2 separate regions of the Homo sapiens genome follow, and region 1 is linked to region 2. The links come from fine-mapping of genetic effects on gene expression. A gene starts in region 2. The other region holds a variant in brackets. All regions are shown on one strand. Distances are from middle to middle.

Region 1 (11,359 bases), 68 kb after region 2:
ATTTTTCCATCTTGTTGCTCGGTCACTTTTGTAATAGAGCTTGTGTGAGTTTTTTTTTTTTTTAAGGAATTTAGAACTATGTCAGTTTTTATCTCCTTTGCAGTTTTTGGTGATAGCTCTGTTATGGGAAGAAGGCAGTGCTGTGGATCTGGACTCCTTGGAGCAACCCTCTCAGGCACATTTCTAGTTGAGGTCTAAGATTAGGTCACTGTGGATAGAGACCAGCAAGGAATCTCAGGCTTAAGACCCAGTTAGTACAAAGGGAGTGAGCTAAGGAAAACTAGATAACTTAGTTTATTTCTCTTTTTCCTTTGGCTTCCTGAAAGCCACCCAGACTAAACTTGATGTTAGTTCAATTCTACAAGTCCTCGGGATGACCATATTTTCTTTCTCTTTCCAAGGTGCTGAATTTCTTTCTTTCTTTCTTTTTCTTTCTTTCTTTTTTTCTTTCTTTCTTTCTTTCTTTCTTTCTTTCTTTCTTTCTTTCTTTCTTTCTTTCTTTCTTTCTTTCTTTCCTTCTTTCTTTCTTTCCTTCTTTCTTTCTTCTTTCTGAATTTCTTTTTTAATAAATCTGGTTTTATATAACTTTTTATTGAAAGCTTCTTCAAATTACTTTTGGACTGGGGAAGGATATGCTTCTCTGTTTTTTTCCTTGTATATTACTGCATTCCCTAAGAGCTAGTCCATGATGGCAGTCACTTTAGGGACTTGAAATTCACCAGGAATGGGGGTTTGGGGAGTCGTGGTGGTACCTTCATGAGACTAACTTTATGGCCTGTTTTTTGGTATTGACTCTCCTGTTTGTCCTGGTACTCCTTCTGGAAAGTTATTTTTCCTGTGTAGGTTTCCTAGAATTCCTAGATTATATCATATTGAAGTACTTTGTTAACTATGCCATAAGTTGTGGGAAACTAGAGTTGGCCTCACTTTTCCCTTCTTCCTAATGTGGATGGGAAACTGACTGGCAGAAAGAAAATCTTCCCCCCTTCCTCTTGGGTTTCTTCTTTTTCTTTTCATAATCTCTTTTAAGAATTTTCTATTACCATTTCATTCAATTTCTTTCTTCTTTAATTTTTCGCTTCTTCCTGTTACTTACTCTGCAGCCTATAAGTGGTAGATGTATCTGTGGTAGTGGTTAGTAACCTGGGTTATGGAGCCAGGTTGATTGGATTTGAATTCTGGCTCTCCAACTTTACCAGTTATGTGACCTTTTTCAAATTCCTTAACCTCTTAATGCTCAGGTTCTTACTCTATAAAATGGGAGTCATCATAGTATTTACTTCATGAAGTTGTTATGAAGATGAAATGAGTTTATACATATTGAGTACTTTGACACATGTCTGGCACATAGTTTTTAATACATGTTATTGATGATGATGATGATGATGATGATGATGATGATGATGATTGCTTGTTTAACTTTGTGGGTAGCGCTTGAAGTAAGTGCTGGTGGCCAAACTGGTAGATTCTTTCTGGCAAATCATTACATTGACTGGATTAATCTGTCTTGGAGCCAGAGGAAATAACATAAAGTAACTTATAAAGGATGACTCTAGGACCTTGAAAAGTCCCAGGTGTCTGGGCTGGACTTGTATCGGTAATTTCTTGTGTGTGTGTGTGTGTGTGTGTTTCCCAATCTTGGCTTAAGTTTCCTAACCTACTTTTAAGATTCCTTCTTCATAATAATGGTTTTTTCTATGTTGTCCTCAGCCATGTTGTCAAATTGTGAGAATAAAACATGTCTGCAGTCTTCCTGTCAAGATAATAATGAACAGTGCCTTATATTTGTATCTTACTCTGCTTAAAATGATTTCCATTCTAAGAGGTCTACAAGATCTTCAAACTACATTTCTACACCCTCCTCCCTGATTATGTAAACAGAACTATAGCATAGAAATTTCTTGCTTCAAACCAAATCATTAACAGTGAAAAAATATAAAAACTCTTGTCTGCATAATTTTGGGGCAGCTCCCAATTATGGGGGAACAAATCTGAACATGTATCATTTGGGATTGGGAGAAAGTAAAGAAAGGGGAAGCAAGGAGTGGTATGAGGAAGGATATTCTCACCTTTTTGTGTTAGAAAAAACCTTAAAGGTCTGAGGCTTAATTTATAGCTACTTGTTGATCTTTCCATTAAAACCAAATTCAGAAGGAAGAGTTTCCTTGGTGTTCTTATATATGGTCTCCTCTCATATTGCACTTTACCCTATACTTAAATTCTTGCAGGACATTATAGCCACATGATGGATTTGCTCTGTGGGAAGAAGGTTAGACTTAGGCTTGCCAAGCAAATGAACCAAAAAATAAGACTTTAGATATCTCCCAGTTGGAAGCTCAAAGGATTGTGAATTATTGTTTTCTGGAGTAGATTGAAACTCATTAACATCTTTAGCAATGGTAGTAGAATCCATTCATTTCTTTCTTTGCTCAGTGTTGACAGTTTGGACCTGTTGTCTCTGTGTGGGTCTCCAAAGAGGGAAAACCATTCAGAAACAGATTTTCAGGTATTTTCAGTATTTGGTGGAGTTAGGGAGCTCTGTGCAATCTTTCCTATGAGTATACATCCCAGGTTAACTATGCACCGAAGAGATCAAGGTGTGCAGGGGTTGAGAGGGGTCCTCTGCTGATTGAGAGTGATTCTTTATCAGTGTGGATGGAGACAAGAAAGCTGTGTGTTCCTCATTCCAAAAGTCAAACTGCTGACCTCTGGCCATCACAATACCCTCCCTGATGATATCAAGCTGGGCTTCTTGTTTGTTGGGTGGGGAATGGGCCTTGTCAGTAAACTTGTAGTCATGTCAGTGGTTACAGTTTTAATCTTTCCCCTTTCAATTTTCTGGCACTGGCTCTCAAAAAGCAGGATGAAGAAAACGAGAGATCCATCCAGCACACTTATTCCAGATTCTTTATATTTATAATTATCACCTTAAATGAAGTAGCCACCGTTCAAGCCCAGATTAATTTTCCTCCAGACAGATAGCTTATCTATTGCAAAGAGCTGGGTTTTCTACGAGTTTTTCTTCTGCTTGCTGCTGCTCTTAAAAGGCTAGATAACACATTGACTCTAGGAGCTATCTGGCTCACAGGGGCAAAGGAATTGCTTGCTGACCTCACCTGGTCTTTTGCATCTCTTGAAGGGAGAATTAATAAACATCACTTGAAGGGAGAGTTGTGTGACTCATTTGAAGGCACATTTGTAAGGCATATCATCTCAGCGAGGAAAGACGCAATAACTCTAGGCACTGGCTCACTTTTGGACTATTAAAAAACAAAATAAAATTCAGAAAAAATTTTAAATTTTAACCAGCTATTTAAAAATGCCTTCCATTTTAACATATGATTGACTATATGTAACTCTGGCAATTGAGATATTTAAGGACACTTAATAAACTAGCTTTGAACCTCTGGAGATGAGAAGAGTTAGGCTTATTCCTTTACTATACCAAAAAAAAGATCATTGGAGAGTCCATTTTTTTAAAAAGTGCAAGTTGTTAACATGGCACAAGTTTAGTACAGTTTCAGCACAGAATTTTGTGCATGGCTTCTGCTTGAAAAGACTTGGGACTATCCAAAGAATTATCTTCAATATATTTATATCTCTATAAAATCTCAAATTGGGTTCTTAAGTGCAAAATTGAGACTCAAAGTCAATTAAGACATACCTTTTCCTTGGTTAAAAAGAAATCAGAAGATGACCTGATAATCACTACAAAAATAATCTTTCATGAAGAAGATGGTCAGACCAAGGAAGATATCCACATTTGTGAAAAGGAGGGTATTCAAAGGCCATAAAAGGCAGAACTTCAAAATATTTTAAAAAGCCGAATGAACTAAAATGTTCACCTGTGATAAATAATAGCAACATTGAACATTTCTCAAGCACAGAGAGTAATGTCCCACCCCTGTACTAAGTGTGCACAGTGAGAAATGTCCCACCCCTGTACTAATTGTTGGGGATTCTAAAATGAGTAAGACAGGATCCTTGATCTCAGGGAGTTTCATTATGTCATGGCGGAAAGAGATCAACCATCCACAGAATAAAGCCTCCAGTAAGAAGTCATGAGAGACAGGTGGTCCAAGTCTGGCAAGTAGAGAGGAGGGACAGATAGCACGTTATTCCTGTAAGGGACTTCCTGATTTTCAACTGTGACCTAGAAAACCAGGTCCAGTGAGTAGCAGTGAGGTGGTCATATGTACATAACGTGGCAACAACAATTTGTGCTTTGAAAGCACATTATGCTTTTCAACATGCTTTACCAGACATGGTCTTTTCAGGCCGCTCTACCCTGTGCAGTAGGTTATCCAAATGTGCAGATAGGGAAGTAGCAACATGGAGAGGACATGAAGCTTGAGTCACAGTAAATAGCTGCTTAGTGGTACCTCTGGGCCGCCAGGGCTCCTGAACTCTAGGCCTGCTTTCTTTCTGCAACCCGCCAGTGGAAGAAATGGCCTTTCTTTTTTCCAAGCTTGTGCAGTGGTACTTTAGTTTCCTGGGATGTTATCTGTATCATGTAAAAGAATGTTTGATTTTGAACTAAAGTTAAATTCTTTCTCATTCTTCATCTTTTGGCTCAAAAGTCACTTCTTCAGGGGATACTTTTCTGGGCCCCCAAATCTCTCTGCTATGCAGTCTCACAGTCCTCTGTACTTTCCACATTAGCACTTATCCCAGTTTGTAATTTACCATTTGTGTCTTATTTGATTAATGTCTGTCTCCCATGTCCAGCCTTACTCTCCATGAAGCCAGGGAGCATACTTCTTTTGTGTATCAATATATGCATTTAGTGACTTGCATATAGTAATCACTCAATAAATGTTTGCTGAAGGAAATTTAAGGTTTGTTTACTGTTTCCTTTTCCTTTTTTTTTTTTTTTTTTTTTTTACAATAGAGTACCCAACATGTGAGCAGCTTACTTGTGACAATGGGGCCTGCTATAACACCAGTCAGAAGTGTGATTGGAAAGTTGATTGCAGGGACTCCTCAGATGAAATCAACTGCAGTAAGTATTGTGCACAAGATGTGCAGTTGTGTGCTGAAGCTGGTTTATACTGGTTTGAGAGAGCCAATATGTACATCTCTTCCCAAGTTCAGGTTCAGTGAATTCATGTTGGTAGTTTGAAGTCAGCCGTTGGTAGGAGTATTTACACACTGGAAATCGGCAAACACTACAAACCAGGGCCTTTTTGTTCCTGGATAACTGGTTCTTAAACAGTTACCAGCACACCACTGCTTAATAAGAATCCCTTTTTAAACTGGAGATGCTCTTCCTTTGAGATTAAATGGCTACAATGGAGTTAACTTCTCTCTTTTCTTTCCCTTCTTAACTTTCTGTTGCAGCTGAGATATGCTTGCACAATGAGTTTTCATGTGGCAATGGAGAGTGTATCCCTCGTGCTTATGTCTGTGACCATGACAATGATTGCCAAGACGGCAGTGA[C/T]GAACATGCTTGCAGTACGGTGATTTCTTTATGCTGGGTCATGTTGTTGGGAGTGTTTTGTTTTGTTTCGGTTTTGTTTTGTTTTATCCCCCCGCTCCCCCACCAATGTACCTCTTTTTTCAAGGAGAAGAGTCACTACGTTTGATGGCAGATGGAATCAGACGGTCACTAGGGGGTCTTGGCACAAGCCTTTGTGGTGTTGCTCGACCTGGGCTCCTTTATTTTCCAAGGATCTGTGTAGATGTAAAGGGCTGGTGATGGACAGTTTGCCTTCTTTCCTTAGGCTCCAGGGGTACAGGATATATTGTATCACTGGATTCTCAAATGACCCATACCTCTGACAACCTTGATAGTAGAATGAGAGAAGTGTTTTTAAGGGAAAGGAAGTTCCTAGGAGTGGCTCTAACTCTCCTCTTTACTTTGAAATTTCTGCTGCATTAAAGTTGGAGGGTCAGGAAAGTTTCTTTTTCTTCGTTTTCTTTTTTTGGAGATGGAGTTTTGCTTTGTTGCCTGGGCTGGAGTACAGTGGCGCGATCTCGGCTTACTGCCACTTCCGCCTCCTGGGTTCAAGCAGTTCTCCTGCTTCAGCCTCCCGAATAGCTGGGATCACAGGCATGCACCACCATGTCTGGCTAATTTTGTGTTTTTAGTAGAGATGGGGTTTCACCGTGTTGGCCAGGCTGGTCTCGAACTCCTGATCTCAAGTGATCCGCCCGCCTCGGCCTCCCAAAGTGCTGGTATTATGGGTATGAGCCACCACGCCCAGCCTGAAAGTTTCAGTGTGGTATAGGTGGCTTTCTTGCCTCCACTTCTTCACGCTGACCTTGCTTTTATGTCCATGCTGTTGCCTGCAATGCAAATGACCTCTCTTATTGTTGCCACCTCTCCACTTATGTTTTTTGGAAAGAGTAAAGTTAGAAGACTCTGTGAAAGAGTTTTACTATGTTCAGTAAGTTGGCAGCTTTGCGTGGTGATTTATTTACTAGAATGTATGATTTCCCTCCACACCTCTTTTGATTGGTTGGTACCCATGCCTTAGGGTGTTGTTAAATATTTTCGATATCACCCTAATTTTCAATGAGCCATGCCTGACTTCCTTTCTGGAACCTGGGCTTATTTCAGTGACAGAGAATTAAAGAGAATGTGACATCATGGAATGGTCGACTCAGAATCATTTGGTCATAGATTAGCAATTACGGAGCTTGTAGTAAAGTATGAGAACGTTGGATGTTGTCATGTCTGCAGCATCTTTGTCTGCATTTTCTGTTCTGTGCCAACGCATTGCAAACCATCTTGTTTTTAATTTTTTTTTTTTTTTTTTTTTTTTTTGAGACAGGGTCTCACTCTGTCACCCAGGCTGGAGTGCAGTGGTGCGATCTTGGCTCACTGCAACTCCACACACCCCCACCAGGCTCATGCCATCCTCCCACCTCAGCCTCCTGAGTAGCTGAGACTACAGACATGTACCACCATGCTTGGCTATTTATTTTTATTTTTCGTATTTTTGGTAGAGATGAGGTCTCACCATGTTGCCCAGGCTGATCTAATTTTTAATCTTGAAAAACAGAAACCGGCACCTGAGTTCATTTCCTGGACCCAAAGCTGCTGTTATCTTCTTCTTTCTCTCTCTTTTTTTTCCTCCTTTTTAAAAATTTTTGTCAAGATGTCTAAGGGATTAAATTGATATAGAAATTTCAATTTCTAGGAGTACTGCTTAGGCAGTGAGGTGAGAGCACTTTCAGTTTTTCCCGGTGATTTGTGTCTTTGGAGTGCAGCTGTTGCTTTATTCCAGACTATCCGACCTGCGGTGGTTACCAGTTCACTTGCCCCAGTGGCCGATGCATTTATCAAAACTGGGTTTGTGATGGAGAAGATGACTGTAAAGATAATGGAGATGAAGATGGATGTGGTAAGGAGGGGAAGAGATTCCTACTGAAAAGCATTTTCTTCAAGTGTTTTCCAGCGCTTGTTTTTTCTCCTTTCCTTTTTAGAAATTTTGTGTGACAAGCAAGCCTCAGGATTGGCTGGAGTTGAAGGGGTTGTTTAGGAACTTAGTGGGTGGGGAAGACGGAGGTGACTGCGCTAACTTCTCCTAAGAAGATTCAGAACACAAATACAGATTAAATTATAATCCTCTCCCTTCTATCTTTAAGGCAAAATAGGTAGGACAGTCTCTGTCTCTTCTATACCCCAGTCTGACTTTCTCCCTGTAAGACTGCCTGTTTTAAATAGATTTAAAACTATATAAAACTAATAGGCTGGGGAAGGAAAGAAAATAGGGAAAATGTCATTTGTCTTAGACCTTACAATCTTTAAAAATGACTTTGAACCTTGGTAACAGTTCAGCTTATTTTTTTGTTTTGGTTTTGTAAATTCTGATTCCCAAATGAGTCACTGACACTCAGTGGTGAAAGAGAGGCCACCTTGGGAACACGTGGGTTGGAGCTGGGGATGGTAAGTGTAGGAGAAGCTACTATCCAGGGAAGTGCTTAAAGATTCCGTGAGAAGGAAATTGCCAGTGATATTCACCCTTTTATGTTGCTGATATTGACCCTTTTATGTTGCTGATATCATCAGCAGTACCTCCAACAATTTAGCAGTTACTAATACCCATACCCTACAGCAAGTTACCTGCACCATTCCAATCCCAGGTATGATAAGGGAAATGCTTGTTAAAACTATGTTTTATGTTTTTATGTTCCAGAAAGTGGTTTTTCTACATTTGGGTTATGGTTTTTCTTATACTGTTGACATTTCACTAAATAAACAAAGCAAATCAAAAAGCCCAACCACAAATTCAAGTAATTCTGGACCTAACTTGATGGCCCTAATTCTATAATTCATGATTTAAATAACTACATCTTTTCTTAGGGGATCATGAATTTAGTTTGTCGATAATTGAGGCCCATATCTGCTTCTTCCTCTTATAACCCTACTGGGGGCTGCCTTTTCCAGGAAAAGTGGAGTAATTCCATTATGCCTCTCCTTAGAATCTCAGTAAAAGACTAGTGGTAGAGTTAGAAATCACTAACTTATTGTAAAATGTAGATCATTTATAGATTTCTCTTGTTCAACTTGCTCTACATCCTCTGTAAACCACTGATTAACAAAGAGCTGGCTGTACCTCCCCTATGGCCTGTAACTCTCTCTTTTTCCCCCCACAGAAAGCGGTCCTCATGATGTTCATAAATGTTCCCCAAGAGAATGGTCTTGCCCAGAGTCGGGACGATGCATCTCCATTTATAAAGTTTGTGATGGGATTTTAGATTGCCCAGGAAGAGAAGATGAAAACAACACTAGTACCGGAAAATACTGTAGTGAGTATAGACATTTACCTGGGTAGCTTTCAGATAAAGATATTTCTGTTTTCTAGAACAGACGTTCAAATACAGTGTATCTGTTGGCATTTGCATAACAAAGCACCCCAAGACTTAGTGGCATAAACTGAGAAACGTGTCTTATTTCTCACAGTTCTGTGGGTTGGCTAGGTAGTTCCTCTGGCCTGTATCAGCTCACTCACACGTCAGGATGTTGCAGTAAAAGCTTGGGCTAGCCTAGCCTTGTTGACCCAGAGGCTGAAAGAGCAAATCCTAGGGCTCAAGTACTTTCAAGGTTCTACTTATGCCAAGTTTGCTCAAGTCTTATTGTCCAAAGCAAGACACTTGGCCAAACCCAGAGTGGATGGAAGAAATAGACTCCATCTATTGATGGGAAGAGCCTAACAATTTTTTAGCAACTCCCCGTTCCTAATCCCTAACGCACACACAGGGAGGATTGTTTCAATGGCAATTTTGATGACCTTAAAGATGTTCTGGAGATTTTATTACCTGGCTTATACTTATGGAAAAAGGCCTTGTCTGGCTGTACTAAAAAAAAAAAAAAAAAAAAAAAAAAAAAGCTTCTGGTTCCTGGGTTATGTACCTTGAGTTACTCTCCAATGGCAAAACTGAGTTGGCCATGCACAGTGTTGTTCGATTATGTCTTGTGTGACCACATTCATTTATGAGGAAACTGACTGGAACTAGGGATTTTTTTTCTCCTTTTTTGGGGCTGTAGAATATTCACCCCACCAACAACCCATCAACTCTGTGGACAGCTGATGGTCCTGTAAGGAAATGCCATTTAAAACCTTGATTTCATCAATAATATACTCTAACTAAATTTGTGATTGCCTAGAAGTGCCCATGTAACTGCAACCCCAAGGTTATTTTTTGTTTCCTGACAAAAATTGTACATAATATTTAAACAGGCAGAGACCTCTATGGCATTTTTTTCTCTATTTCATTTGGGAGCCCATTTAAAAAAGCTTAAAAATTAATAAGAGATATGTAGTCACAGTATGAAAGTTGGAAAATAAAAATTAACCAAAAGAAAAAAATATAATCACCTGAAATCCCATCTCTTGAAGCCAGCCACAGTTAATATTTCTAGGGCTTATTCTTGCTCCAGTCACTTGGGAGTTCTTAGCCCTTTTTACTATGTAGACACAAAGATAGACCCATGCATGACCTGATTTTTTTTTCATAAATAAGACTTTTAATGACTTATACTTGCACATAGTTATAACTTTAAAAAGGAGCTTTTTCTTTTCTTTTGTTTCCACTCAAGGCAGCCTCTTGTTCTGTCACCCAGGCTAGAGTGCAGTGGTGCAGTCATAGCTCACTGCAGCCTCCATCTTTTGGGCTCAAGTGATCCTCCTGCCTTGGCCTCCCAAAGTGCTGAGATTACAGTTGTGAGCCACTGTGCCTGGCTAATGCTTTTATTTTTAATTTTTTGTGAATATGAGGTGTAGCTACATTACCCAGGCTGGTCTTGATCTCCTGGCTTCAAGCAATCTTCCTGTCTCAGTTGAACTTTTATTGCAAAGTTTTGCAGTAAGCTTTGAAGGGTGACAGATTTTTCTGTACATCTACTTCATGCTTACTGAGCTGCTACTCATGGAAAAAGAAGCTATTAGATTAATCAGTCTTGTCCAGAGGTCACCATTCATTTAACAAAGTTCTTTTCTTCGTTTAGGTATGACTCTGTGCTCTGCCTTGAACTGCCAGTACCAGTGCCATGAGACGCCGTATGGAGGAGCGTGTTTTTGTCCCCCAGGTTATATCATCAACCACAATGACAGCCGTACCTGTGTTGGTAAGTGATGGGGGGCGGCGGCTACTTGTCTTTCATTACAGTACACTGATGGGTGCCCTGATCTCTGACATCTAGGAGGTTGCACTTGTGGAGAGTCGTCATGGTCTGTCATAACAAAGAGCAACCCAGACCTCACAGAAAACCTGGCAAATAGGGAATTTTAACTCTGAGAAGGTTTGGTGTGGTGTACAAGGCAAAAGAATGGTTCTGTCATGAGCGAGTTGACTAGCTACCTGGAACCTATCCATTACTTGATGAGGGCGGTAGTCCTTTTCTGTTTTCTTTTCAAGTATTTGGCATCAGGATTGGTGCAGCCATACTGGTTATTGAATACTGAACTACTTCCATGAGGTTGGTAGATAGCTGCTGCCTGAGCCCAGCAAGCACCGCTACCTTGCTCCCCTGGCCTCTTCTCCAGGATGCACAAGCATCCCCAGGATCCCACAACTAAAGAGTTGTTACCTGACACAGCAGAGGATCACCAGGTCATTGCTCAGGTGACTACACTGGTGGGCCAGTGCCTTTGCTGGGCTGGCTACTCATTCCACTGATTGTGACATCCACTTGGAACTATCATTCAAGATGAGCAGATTCTTTATCATGGTGCTTCCAGATGGTGGCTGGCATTAAACTAGACACCAGTACACCAACTATTTCCTCATATCTCTCCTCTCTGACTTCAGAAATGATTTCTCCCAATGAGATTTTTGATTTTGATGCCAGCTTTATATCTCACTGTGATTAGGACGGGGCCTTATGATGGGAGAATTAGACTTGACCAAC
Region 2 (11,359 bases):
AATCATGCAAGGGTTTGTAGGCTATGCTAAAAATTTTTCATTTTATTGTGGAAAAATGGAAAAGTGATTGAAAGGTTGTAATCAGGCAAGTGTATGGTTGGCATAATGACTAAAAAAGATTATTCTGGTTGCAGAGGGAGAAGAATTTTGAGAAGGCCATGGGAACACAACAAATGTGACAAGTGCTGGGCTGAGGGAAGTAAAGAGAGTTCTGAGGGCATGCATATCTGATTTTCCCCATAACATCCTCTAGAGATACTTTTTTCCCAGTCCAAGATCCACCCTAGGGTCATGCACTGCATATTTCTAAACTGCATATCTCAGCCTTTCTTTATCTTTTATGACCTTGCCATTTTTGAAGTATACAAAATATACTGCAAATACTGTACTTTAGTACTTAAATGTCCCTTAGTTTGGACATTCTAAAAAATGAGAAAACATTGGTTTGACTGATGTTTTCTCATGCTTAGATTTGGGGCATGCACAGTAATACCACAGAAGTGCTGCTGTGTCCTTCAGAGTGTGTCACACCAGGAGGAACATGATGTCAGTTTGCCTCATATTAGTTTTGATTGTTGTGTTGACTTTGATTCCTTGGTTCAATGTAGAGCCTATTGTATTTACCACATTTCTAGCTTCTATAAATATAATGCCTTAATATATATAGGGGAGAGAGAGACAGGTTCTCACTGGAGTGCAGTGATGTGATCATAGCTCACTGCAGCCTCCAACTCCTAGGCTCAAGCCTCAAGTGATTCTCCTGCCTCAACCTCCCAATGTGCTGGGATTACAGGCATAAACCACTGTGCTGGGCCTAAACTTCATGTTTAACATCTGTCCTGCATGCACATGCCATATACACTTTGTTCTAGATAATCTGTTAATATGCCTGACATATTAGTCATCTTGCTTTGACCTCCTGCTTGTTTTATAAATACAAATTAGTCAGTCCTAAACCTGCTTACTCTGCCTTGTCTGTTCCTTTAGGTGGAAACCATAGTAAAGGAGCTTGCCCACACTTCTCCCCTTGCCCTCTGCTTCCCTGTGTGGTCCCTTGAGGCAAGATGTGTACTCCTTCTCTTGGGATCTGTGAATATAACAAACTATATTTTCAATGGCAGTTATCTTTTGGTCTGTTGACTTTATCATATTTAAATAATAATGAAACATATTAAAATATCTGACATATTTTTCTGCTTAAAGTCACTTTTTCCCTTTTTAATGAATAAGTAATTTGTGGGGAGATACTTTAAACTTTTTTGGCTGAGATGCATATGAGAAATATATTTTACATGGCGACACAGTGTGTGTGTGTGTGTGTGTGTGTGTGTGTGTGTGTATTGGTTTGGGCTCCATCCTGCTGAGTTTGAGGCCTTAGGACATTGGATTGGAGCTGTTCAGGGGGCAGTTGGCTCTCAGGAGGAAACTCAGGAGGCACTCAGGAGGAAACACACACATACACACACACACACACACACACAGAAACAGTAGTGTTATAAAGTTATACATATCTTTTCCACATGAAAGTTATTTTGGTTTCTATGTTGTTATATTTCATTTGAATATAATTCTTGCCTTGACCTGCTAAATTGATTTCATTACCCTCTAAAAAGTAATTACCTCTGTTTGCAAGCACTAGTTTGATAGAACTACCAAGTTGAATTGTCTGGTTGCCAAATGGAAAGTAGATGGGAGGGGGCAAAACTGATAGCAAGGAGCTCATTCTAAGGCTCTCCCTATAATTTAGATTGATGAGTGGATTGATAAATTTGAGGTAACAGAATTTCATGATTGATTGGCAATGGGGGTGGAAAAAAGAAGGAGTCAAGAATGATGTAAATTTCAGCTTGGCTTCTGGGGCAATGGTGGTGCTGAAGCTTCTTGGTTTCACTTTCACCTGTCTCTTTCGGTTGACTGCTCTGAAAAGTCCTATATACATATATGGAGAGAGAAATGTGAAAACTAAAGAAATTATCTTTTTGCATTATAGAGAAACACTGCTGGCTTAAATTGCAACTGAATTAACCTGGGCTTTCCCAGATACTGGTCCATAGATTTAATCACCCCAATCTAGTAACAGGCATTCTCAGGTATGGATGCCAGAGATAAACACGTGCATGGTGCAGGCTGTTTTCAAACGTCACGAATTGGGGATTGCATTGAGAAAATGGGTTATTCTAGTGGAAAAGTGTGTGGGTCCACATACAGAGTGCTGCGAATGATGGGCTGTGCTCCGCTAGGTGGTCCCCCATCCCTACCCCTTTTCTGCTCTCCTACCTCCCGTTCTCCCTCCCTCCTTTCCCCTCTTCTGCGTTATTCTGGGATTAACGGCGGGGTCGGCCCCATACACAAACGCAGCTGGCTAGTACGGTCAGCCTGAGCCCTGCTGTGCAACCACGTCAGGAATTCCAGTAAGTTGGCAACACTGGAGCACAAAGACAACAACAATTGAGGAACTCTTCAGTACAGAAAGGAATGTTTGGAGCCCTGGCTGCTACAGTGAAAGGGCACACACACACACACACACACACACACACACACACACACACACACACACACACACACACGCTCGCGCCTGCGCGCCCACGGGCGCACTGGAGGGAGCCCAGCCCCTCCCGCACTCGCGCTCCTCCCTCCCGCCAGCCGGCGGCCGCTCTTTGTAAGTCGGAGGTGCGGGGACGCTCATTGACTATGCAGCGCGGCCCCAGCGGGCGTCGGACCGGCTTGACCCCGGCGCGGTCTCGTACCATCGCCTCGGCCGCCCGGAACCGGCATAAATCACCCGCGAAGACTGGAGTGCAGCATCAAGCCCCCTCGCCGCCTCCCTCCTCCCGCTCCGGTCCGGTCGCCCCCTCCCTCCCCAGACCCCGGCTCTCCTGTCCCCAGTCCTGTCTCCTCCGCGCCGCACAGCGCCCAACACTATGCAGGGAGGCAAATAGAGAACCAGTGACTTTGGCCAGAGCACAGACCTCTGGATTTCCCAATCCAGGAATCTCTCCCACTCTTTCCCACAACGCTGCCCGCTCCACCTTTTTTTCTTTAAGCCTAAGTTTTCTCTTTTTGTGTCTATTTATCTCTTTTTGTCTTTCCAAAGTAACACCTATCCTTTCCCTCCCCTAGCCCCCACACCTAAAGCTGCGCCTACCACTGCAGCCCACGGAAGCTACGCGATCCGGACTGTTGGGGTCAGCAGAGCCCCGGACGACCTGTGCCCCGGGGAAAGGGGCTGGCAGTAATTGGCAGGTTCTCGCCCCTGGGGAAGGGAGGCAGCGGGAACCTGTCCAGCGACCACGTGCGTTCAGGGCTGTCTCCTCCATGCGTCACGGCCCCTTCGCTGGAGGGAAAGGGCTCCTGACTTCTTGGACCAGGATCCGGAGCCTGGGACTAGCTGCCGCGCTGGTTCAGGGGCTGGAGCTGGAGATGATGGGATGGCCTCAGGCCCGCAAACAGCCCCTTCTCACACAGGGTTCCCACCACCGGGAAATAACTTGCATCAACCCTCCTTTTTTACCCCTCCCTGTGGGCTCTGATGTCACGTACAGGCTGAGGACGTGCGCTGAGGGCGGGTGTAAGGCCACTTGTGCTTTTGGCTTCCGGGCCCCTTGCCAGCCTGTCCAAAGCGGCCCCAAAGAAGGGAGGCTAGGGGTTCCCTGAACCTCTCGTGTTTCTCCTTCTTATAAAAGGGTACCGGAACCATGGAGAAGACGTTCGCTCTTTTTCAATTTTGCTTCAAAATGAGCAGACTTGTAAGAAGCACGATCTGGCCATGACACCTGTAGATGTGGTGCTGAATAATTGCTAAATAAGGATCCAACCTCCCCAACAAAGATCCACCTCCCTCTCTAATTTGTAAAAACACAAAGCACCCCATCTCAGCAGCCTGTATCCTATCAGGGGAAACCAAGATATCCGAAGGAGCCTAGAGAGATCAGGCCAGGAATGAAGGTCACAGATCTCCATCCAGCAGGCTCTTTACTCCTTCCCTTCCCTACCCCCGCCTCTTTCCCTTTCTTTCTCTTTCCTTCATTTTTACTTGTCTGGTTGTGCTTTCCTTTTCCATTTCTTATTTTTTCTTTCTCTTCTCTATTCTTGACTTTCCTCCTCGTCCATTTCTTTCCATTGCTCATTTAGTAAAACTGCGTCCGTGCAGATTTCCCCGTGAGCCGCCTCGCCGGCTTCTGTGCGGGGCAAACCCTGCGGAGAGGCGAGGGCAGCGCGTGTGCACGTGTGAGTGTGCCTGTGAGAGTGTGCGCACAGGAGTGTGCTCTTGTATGCACGCGTAAAGGGGACTGTGTATGTCGGCGTTGAAGTGTGACTGTGGAATGTGCGCGCGTGTGTGACTGGCGTGTATGAGTGAATCTGTGTCAGTTGGTGTGACACTTAGGAGTGCATGCGCCTGTATGAGTGCGTGTGTGAGTGTGCACACGCCTGTGTGAGTGTCCCTGTGTGAGCACGCGTGTGTTCGAGTGCCCACTCCTCCCCGCGCTGCAAAGTGCAGGGGGCGGGCCGGGCGGCAGGGGGCCTGCCCGCTGGATTCCCGCATGCTTGTTCCGGGGCGGTCGGGTCTAAAGGGCTTTATGCACTGTCTGGAGGGTGGGGACTGGCGCGGGTAGAAAACGGGATGCCTCGGGCGTGGGGGCAGGCTTTTGGCCACTAGGAGCTGGCGGAGGTGCAGACCTAAAGGAGCGTTCGCTAGCAGAGGCGCTGCCGGTGCGGTGTGCTACGCGCGCCCACCTCCCGGGGAAGGAACGGCGAGGCCGGGGACCGTCGCGGAGATGGATCGCGGGCCGGCAGCAGTGGCGTGCACGCTGCTCCTGGCTCTCGTCGCCTGCCTAGCGCCGGCCAGTGGCCAAGGTAAGAGCCCAGCCAGAGCCTCTCGTGGAGCCCCCACTTCCCCGGCTGTGGCAGGGTCGGGTCCGCGGGAGGCCGGAGGGGAGAGCGTCCGGGCAGGGGCTAGGGCCGGGCGGCGGCGCGGGAGCTGCTCCCGGTGGGGCGCTCAGGTTGCTTCGCGAAGCCGGAGCGGGAGCGCCCCTCTTCGCTCGCCAGGAACTGAGCGGCAGCAAACTTGAGAAAGCAGCCCCGCCAGTTTCGGTGACAGCGCACCCCACGGAGACCCTGTCTTTGTTCCCACGGGCGTTGGTCCGATGCTCCTGGAAAGCACTTTGCGGGAGAACGAGGTTCTCCGCCGTTTGCAGCCTGCCCTCCCTAGCGGAGTTCTCTGCTGGGCGGCGCGGTCCCGGGCTCTGCTCAGAGCGCAGCTTTCCACCTGCAGCGCCCCTCCCGGGATCCCTTCGCGCGCCCAGGGCCGCGGGCCAGAGCACTCCTCCCACCACCGGCGAAACTTGGTCCCGCGGTGACCCCCAGAGACCGCTCTCACCATACAGATCATTTACGAGCCAAGATAAGGCCGGGAGGTGGGATTGGCCGAGAGAGTGGCTGAGGGACTGGAGTCTTTTCTTGAAGTTTTCCTTTCCAGCTGGGAGCTGGGGGCTTTTGTGTTGATGAATGGGGCCCGTCTGCATGGCCAGAGTTTTGGGGATCGAATGCAGAAAGTTTCTAGTATGAAGTGCTTTAAACTTCTCTCAAGTTGTCCGATAGTTTATGTTTTAACAGAAACAGAGAAGAGGGAAAGAGAGGGAGAAAGAAGCGGAGAGAATAAAACTAGTAAGAAGGGAAGAGGAGAGAGCGTAAGAGAAGCAAATAGGAATAAGGAAAGAAGGAGGGAAGAGAACGACTGGGGCGGGAGAAGAGAGAGAGAGAGGAGAGAGAGGAGAGAGACAGAGAGAGAGAGAGAGAGGGAGAGAGAGAGAGAGAGAGAGAGAGACAGAGAGAGACAGAGAGAGACAGAGAGAGACAGAGAGACAGAGACCCGGCCGAGGATGAATGGGAAGGGCGAGGAGGAGGCTGGAACCGGCGAGCTCTCCCCCTGGCTTTGCGTTGCTAGGTAGCAGCCGGGAGCTGCGTGTGACCGACCACCAGACAGACAGAGGGGACGCTGCTGCCACCGCAGGGACTAATCTGTCTGTGGGGATGGGAGAGTCCCCCCTTTCCCCTCCTGCTCCTTCCCTCCCGTCGGACAACTTAATTGCCCTACAATGAAAATGAAACCCCTATTGTTGTAGGATTAGCCAAAGCAATAAATTGATTTTCCTGGATCACATATTGGGGTTGATGGGTGGGGAATGTGGAAGCCCCCATTTACGGAGGAGTGAGGGGAGGGCTTGTGGATGGGCCGTGGCATGTATTCAAATGGTTAATCTGCTTTCTTTCCTCAATTCTTAGCGTAAGCTCCTTAGAGGGAATCAAGTAAGTAATTATACAGCAACTCCTAGCAGCACCCATTTCAGACTTCCTGGGAAGAAGTTTGGAAACCCTAACAAACCCCACAGGTCTTGCAAAAGTCTTCAGAAAGGCAGGAGAGGCAAGGAGAGATCATTAATAACCTTCCTTTGAACACCCTTTCTCAGTGTTGGTAACGCAGAAAGAGGGTTTATTATTATTGTGCAGAGTTTGCACAATGCTTAGGGTTGTATCTCATGTCCTAAATATAGCTATAGGATTTACTATATGTTCCTGTCAGTGCCTGGCAAAAGGAAATCTTACCTTGATTCATCTATGTCCTTGTACAACCAAAACAGATATTCTTTTTCCTGGGTTGATGATTTAGTCACTAAATAACCAATACCTACTCTTCTTGATAGTTTTTTGCACCCATCCATCTTCCATTCTATGATAATAATATATAATAATAATGTGTATAGTAATAGTAACCTAGCATACACATATATGTGGCAGGCTTTGTTCTAAGCACTTTATACTTATTGACTCAATTAATCTTCATAATATCCCTTGGAAGTAAGTACTCTTATTATCACTGTTTTACAGATGAGAAAGTGGAGGCACAGAACAATTCAGTAATTTGTCTCAGTTCATACTGCTAGAAAATGGCAAACTCAAGGGATTCTGAATTCAGAGTCTATAATTGCTACAGTATACAGTGTCTGGTTTTCTCTCTCTCTCTCTCTCTTTTTTTTTTTTTTTTTTTTGAGAGAGACAGAATCTCGCTCTGTCACCCAGGCTGGAGTGCAGTGGTGCAATCTCGGCTCACTGCAACCTCTGCCTCCCAGGTTCAAGCGATCCTCACACCTCAGCCTCCCAAGTAGCTGGGACTACAAGCCCGGGGCACCATGCCCAGCTAATATTTTGTATTTTTAGTAGAGGCAGGGTTTTGCTATGTTGGCCAGGCCAGTCTTGAACTCCTGACCTCAAGTGATCTGCCCGCCTAGGCCTCCCAAAGTGCTAGGATTACAGGTGTGAGCCACTGCACCTGGCCCGATTTCTCTTTTTTCTTTTGTACAAAAAATGTCATGCTCCCTAACTTACTGTCCATGTTTGAGGTTCCCAAAGAAGCTGAGGGGCAATATGCAACTCGTACCACCTGCTGCTTCATAACTGTGGATCTTTTTCCAGAATCTCTCCTCAGGTTTCTAAGACCAGAACCCAAGTCTCCCCATTCCCAGTCTTCCTACTTGATCATTTTAAGACGCATTTCCTCTGAATGTCCTCTGCCTGATACGTTGAGATTTCTAGAATCCTGTTGTAATGATCCTGACTTAATATATGAAGTAAAATCCAATGAGATTGTAACAGCCTTTATTTAAGCACTACCTTTTAGGTAGGCTACCATTGCAAACTTCGCATCACTAAAAATTGGAGGGGAAAAAAAAGAGCTCTGAGTATTCTATGTTTAGTCTTTGAAAAAAATTATACCACATCTGTTGTTAAAAATTATTTGCATTTTCCTTATCTTTTGTGTAATGCTTTTCAAGAAAAAACATTTTGCAGAGTCTGAACTCGAGTCAAGCTGTTGGGTTCCAACATTGGCTTTACCACTTTCTAGCTGTGTGACCTTGGGAAAGTCAACCAACTTTGCATAGCTCAGATGGCTTATCTGCAAAATTGACAAGATAATAAGAGAATTTACCCAATGACATCTTGTAAGCATAAAGAGATAAAATATGCCAAGTGCTTAGCATGGTGTAAAGCATATAGACAGTGAAAATAAACTAGAAAATAATCTAAAAATACAATATTTTTATTATATTTATCAACCCTTAAAGTAACATATTGTTTTGCTTCCTATTCCTATTTCCATTTCCAATTTTCAAATATACAAAGGAAAGTCTTCTTTAAGCATTTTTCACTAACAGTTCTCTGAAGACTTCTCAGACCCTAGCATGTGATTGGAAGATTTTTTCTTTTTTTTTTTTTTTTTTGAGAAAATCGTATTGGCCTTAAACAAAGTTGTATTCTGTTTACTAATTAAAAAAACTTATTTTTCAAAAATAGAAATGGGGTCTCACTGTGTTGCCCAGGCTGGTCTTGAACTCTTGGCCTCAAATGATCCTCCTACCTCTGCTTCCCAAAGTGCTGACATTATAGGCAGGAGCCACCTTACCTGGTCCAACATTATATTCTTTAATCCAATAAAAATGTGGTAATGTTTTTAAGAGTTAGTATCAGCTTTTATGACAATTACATCTTCACATGAAGTTTATATGTTTAAAAGGATTGTGGGGGCAATAGCAAACTTGTATCGTTTTTATTCCATCACAACTCTGGAACCTCACTGCTGCTTTAATTTCACAGTTGTTGGCTTCTCTTTCTCTACTTGAAAAAGTTTCTCTTTACCAGTCTTCATAAGACTTCTGCCTGAACTCCCTTCAGTCATGCACCTGTCTCATTTTAATAGAAACTCAGACTTTTTACAGCTAGAGGGAACCTTAGATATCAACTGGTCTGCTTGCATTTTTTTTTTCTTACAGATAAGCAATTAGCCCAGGAGGGAGAAGAAAGGGGCTGAGAGGATGAAAGGGAAGGCGGTTAATAGGTTTCTTGCCTAAGGACATCTAGCCTGTGACAGAGCTAAGATATAAATTTGCAGTGGACCATTTTTTAGATTCATGCCTTCTGAATGTCCCCAGCCTGTTTGGTTGGTTGAGATTTCTAGATTCCTTTTGGAATCCTGACTTGCCAGATAAGGCACAGTCTGATAAGCAGATGAATCTTAAAAACAATTGGATGGGTTACCTGTCCCTGGCCAAAGAGGAATCCTGTGATAGGTTATTACAACCATGTACCATGCGCTTTCAGCTTGGTCCAGAACTGATGCCATGTCAGTGCCCCTACTCCCAAAGACCATACCTCCAGATCCATTTTTCAAATTCTTGAGCCATCAAAGCGCATTCCTGAAGATCTTTGGGTTTTGTAGTGCAGGCTGCTGTAAGACTAGGTTTTCAGTCTTACTAAAGGTAATTATTAGGTCATAATCATTGTTCATGTTCTCTAGTCAGGCACTGTAAGAACACTGAAAGGTTTTTAAAATATTTAAATTAAAATTTTAAATTATCATTTAAAAATAATGATACCAGGAACCTAGATGTATTTCCTGTGTAATCAGAAGCAAGTGCATTGTCATATTGGCTTTGGAGTTTCTGTTAAGTCCTAGTAGCTAGAACAAGGTAAGTAGAAAGTAGAAGGTGCTGAGCTGGGCGTGGGGGCTCATGCCTGTAATCCCAGCACTTTGGGATGCTGAGGCGGGAGGATCATGAGGTCAGGAGATCGAGACCTGCCTGGCCAACATGGTGAAACCCTGTTTCTATTTAAAACACAAAAATTAGCTGGGCGTGGTGACGCACACCTGTAATCCCAGCTACTCGGGAGGCTGAGGCAGGAGAACTGCTTGAACACAGGAGGCAGGGATTGCAGTGAGCTGAGATTGTGCCACTGCACTCCAGCCTGGGTGACAGAGCAAGAATCTGTCTCAAAAATAAAATAAAATAAAATAAAATAAAATAAAATAAAATAAAATAAAATAAAATAAAAATAAATAAAAAAGAAAAAAAAAAGAAAAGAAAGTAGAAGGTGCTTATGAAAGAGTGTTGAATGGATAGGAAAGGGGTTCTCAAGGTTGACTGCACGAATCTAGAGCAACTAAAAAAATACTAATTGTGAAGCCCTATTCTAGCATGGAAAAAATAAGCTTGATGGAACCTTTGGTATAAATCAAATGGTTCTATCGTATCCTATTAACTTTATAGTCTTGAGTAATTAAAAATTTTTACCACTATTGTGTATTCTGTGAATGTTTATTTTATTTTTTCCATGAATATTTATTAAATATCAACAGTGTGCTGATGAGTCAATAGTATCAATACTACAGAAACATTAAGGAAGATGAGAACTGAAAAGAGGTGTCTACATATCTCGCAATTAAAATGGACTGCAGTTTTGCATTTAAGATTCTGAAATAGTCATTGACTCATTCCTAATAACCCTGCCCAGGATCTCACCAGCATTAGAAAGATTGGAGATGTTTCAGCATCCGAGTTCTGGGATGCTTCTTGATAATGATCAGCTAGTAGTTGTTTTGAAATGTCAAGAGCATTTCTGTGGTTCTTCACATGTTCCTAATGCAAATGTTTCCGAAGTAATTTCTTGACAGTTACAGTGTTTTGAGATGAAGTGGGAAGGGCTTGTGATTTTGAAGTTGGAGGATCTTGGTTTGATTCCTACCTCTGCCATTTATTATCTGGGAAATCCAGTACCACACATGCTGGGTGCTCTGGGGCAGTTTTCTTATCTGTAAAATGGACATATATCTACCTCACGGGGTGGTTATGCAAAGGCAATGAATGTGAAATGTTTAATAAACTGTGAAGTCTCATATAGATTTCCATTCATCATTATTACCCAATACGAGAATTTTACTTTTTCCAAACTTGAGAGGAGGAAGATGTTGCAGTATTTTGGTATCTTCTTTACCGTGGGTCTGAGAATGATGCACCTGTGCATGTTGTTACATCCTTACAGTGGCTACCACAACTTCACATGTTATTCAGTACTGTTATGTTGGTGAATGTCACAAAACTAAGTTAAACTGTCTGAGGCAAAAAAGGAAGGTTATTGAAATACATAGTTGAGGCTGGGTGTGGTGGCTCATGCCTATAAATCTCAGCACTTTGGGAGTCTGAGGTGAGCGGATTGCTTGAGCCTAGGAGTTTGAGACCAGCCTGGGCAACATAGTGAGACTCCATCTCTACAAAAAATACAAAAAATTAGCCAGGAATGGTGGTGTGCCCTTGTGGTCCCAGCTACTTGGGAGGCTGAGGTGAGATGATCGCTTGAGCCCAGGAGGTCGAGGCTACAGTGAGCTGTGATCATGCCACTGCACTCCAGCCTCAGCGACAGAGTGAGACCCTGTCTCAAAGAAAATAAATACATAGTTGAAAAGATACAGATAATTAGGTTGATCCATTTGAGATTGATTTTTTTTCCTATGCAGAAATAGTCAAATATT

What was found. PIP is the estimated chance that this variant, and not a neighbour inherited with it, causes the effect.
Region 1: its variant is fine-mapped to the expression of LRP2 in nasal epithelium (TOPMed, PIP above 0.99).

The regions. Positions count from the first base shown.
Region 1 is chr2:169,288,243-169,299,601 of GRCh38, reverse strand. It overlaps LRP2 (LDL receptor related protein 2), which reads left to right. Exons shown (of 79, transcript NM_004525.3): 5 at 4,892-5,002; 6 at 5,341-5,454; 7 at 7,233-7,349; 8 at 8,605-8,757; 9 at 10,457-10,576. Among named protein-coding and RNA genes, the nearest start is that of LRP2, 69 kb to the left of the region's middle. The variant C/T (reference allele first, on the strand shown) is at 5,441.
Region 2 is chr2:169,355,816-169,367,174 of GRCh38, reverse strand. It overlaps LRP2 (LDL receptor related protein 2), which reads left to right and starts at 4,641. Exons shown (of 79, transcript NM_004525.3): 1 at 4,641-4,854. The coding sequence starts at 4,776. RefSeq lists enhancers at 3,523-4,156, 4,157-4,790 and a silencer at 9,553-9,737.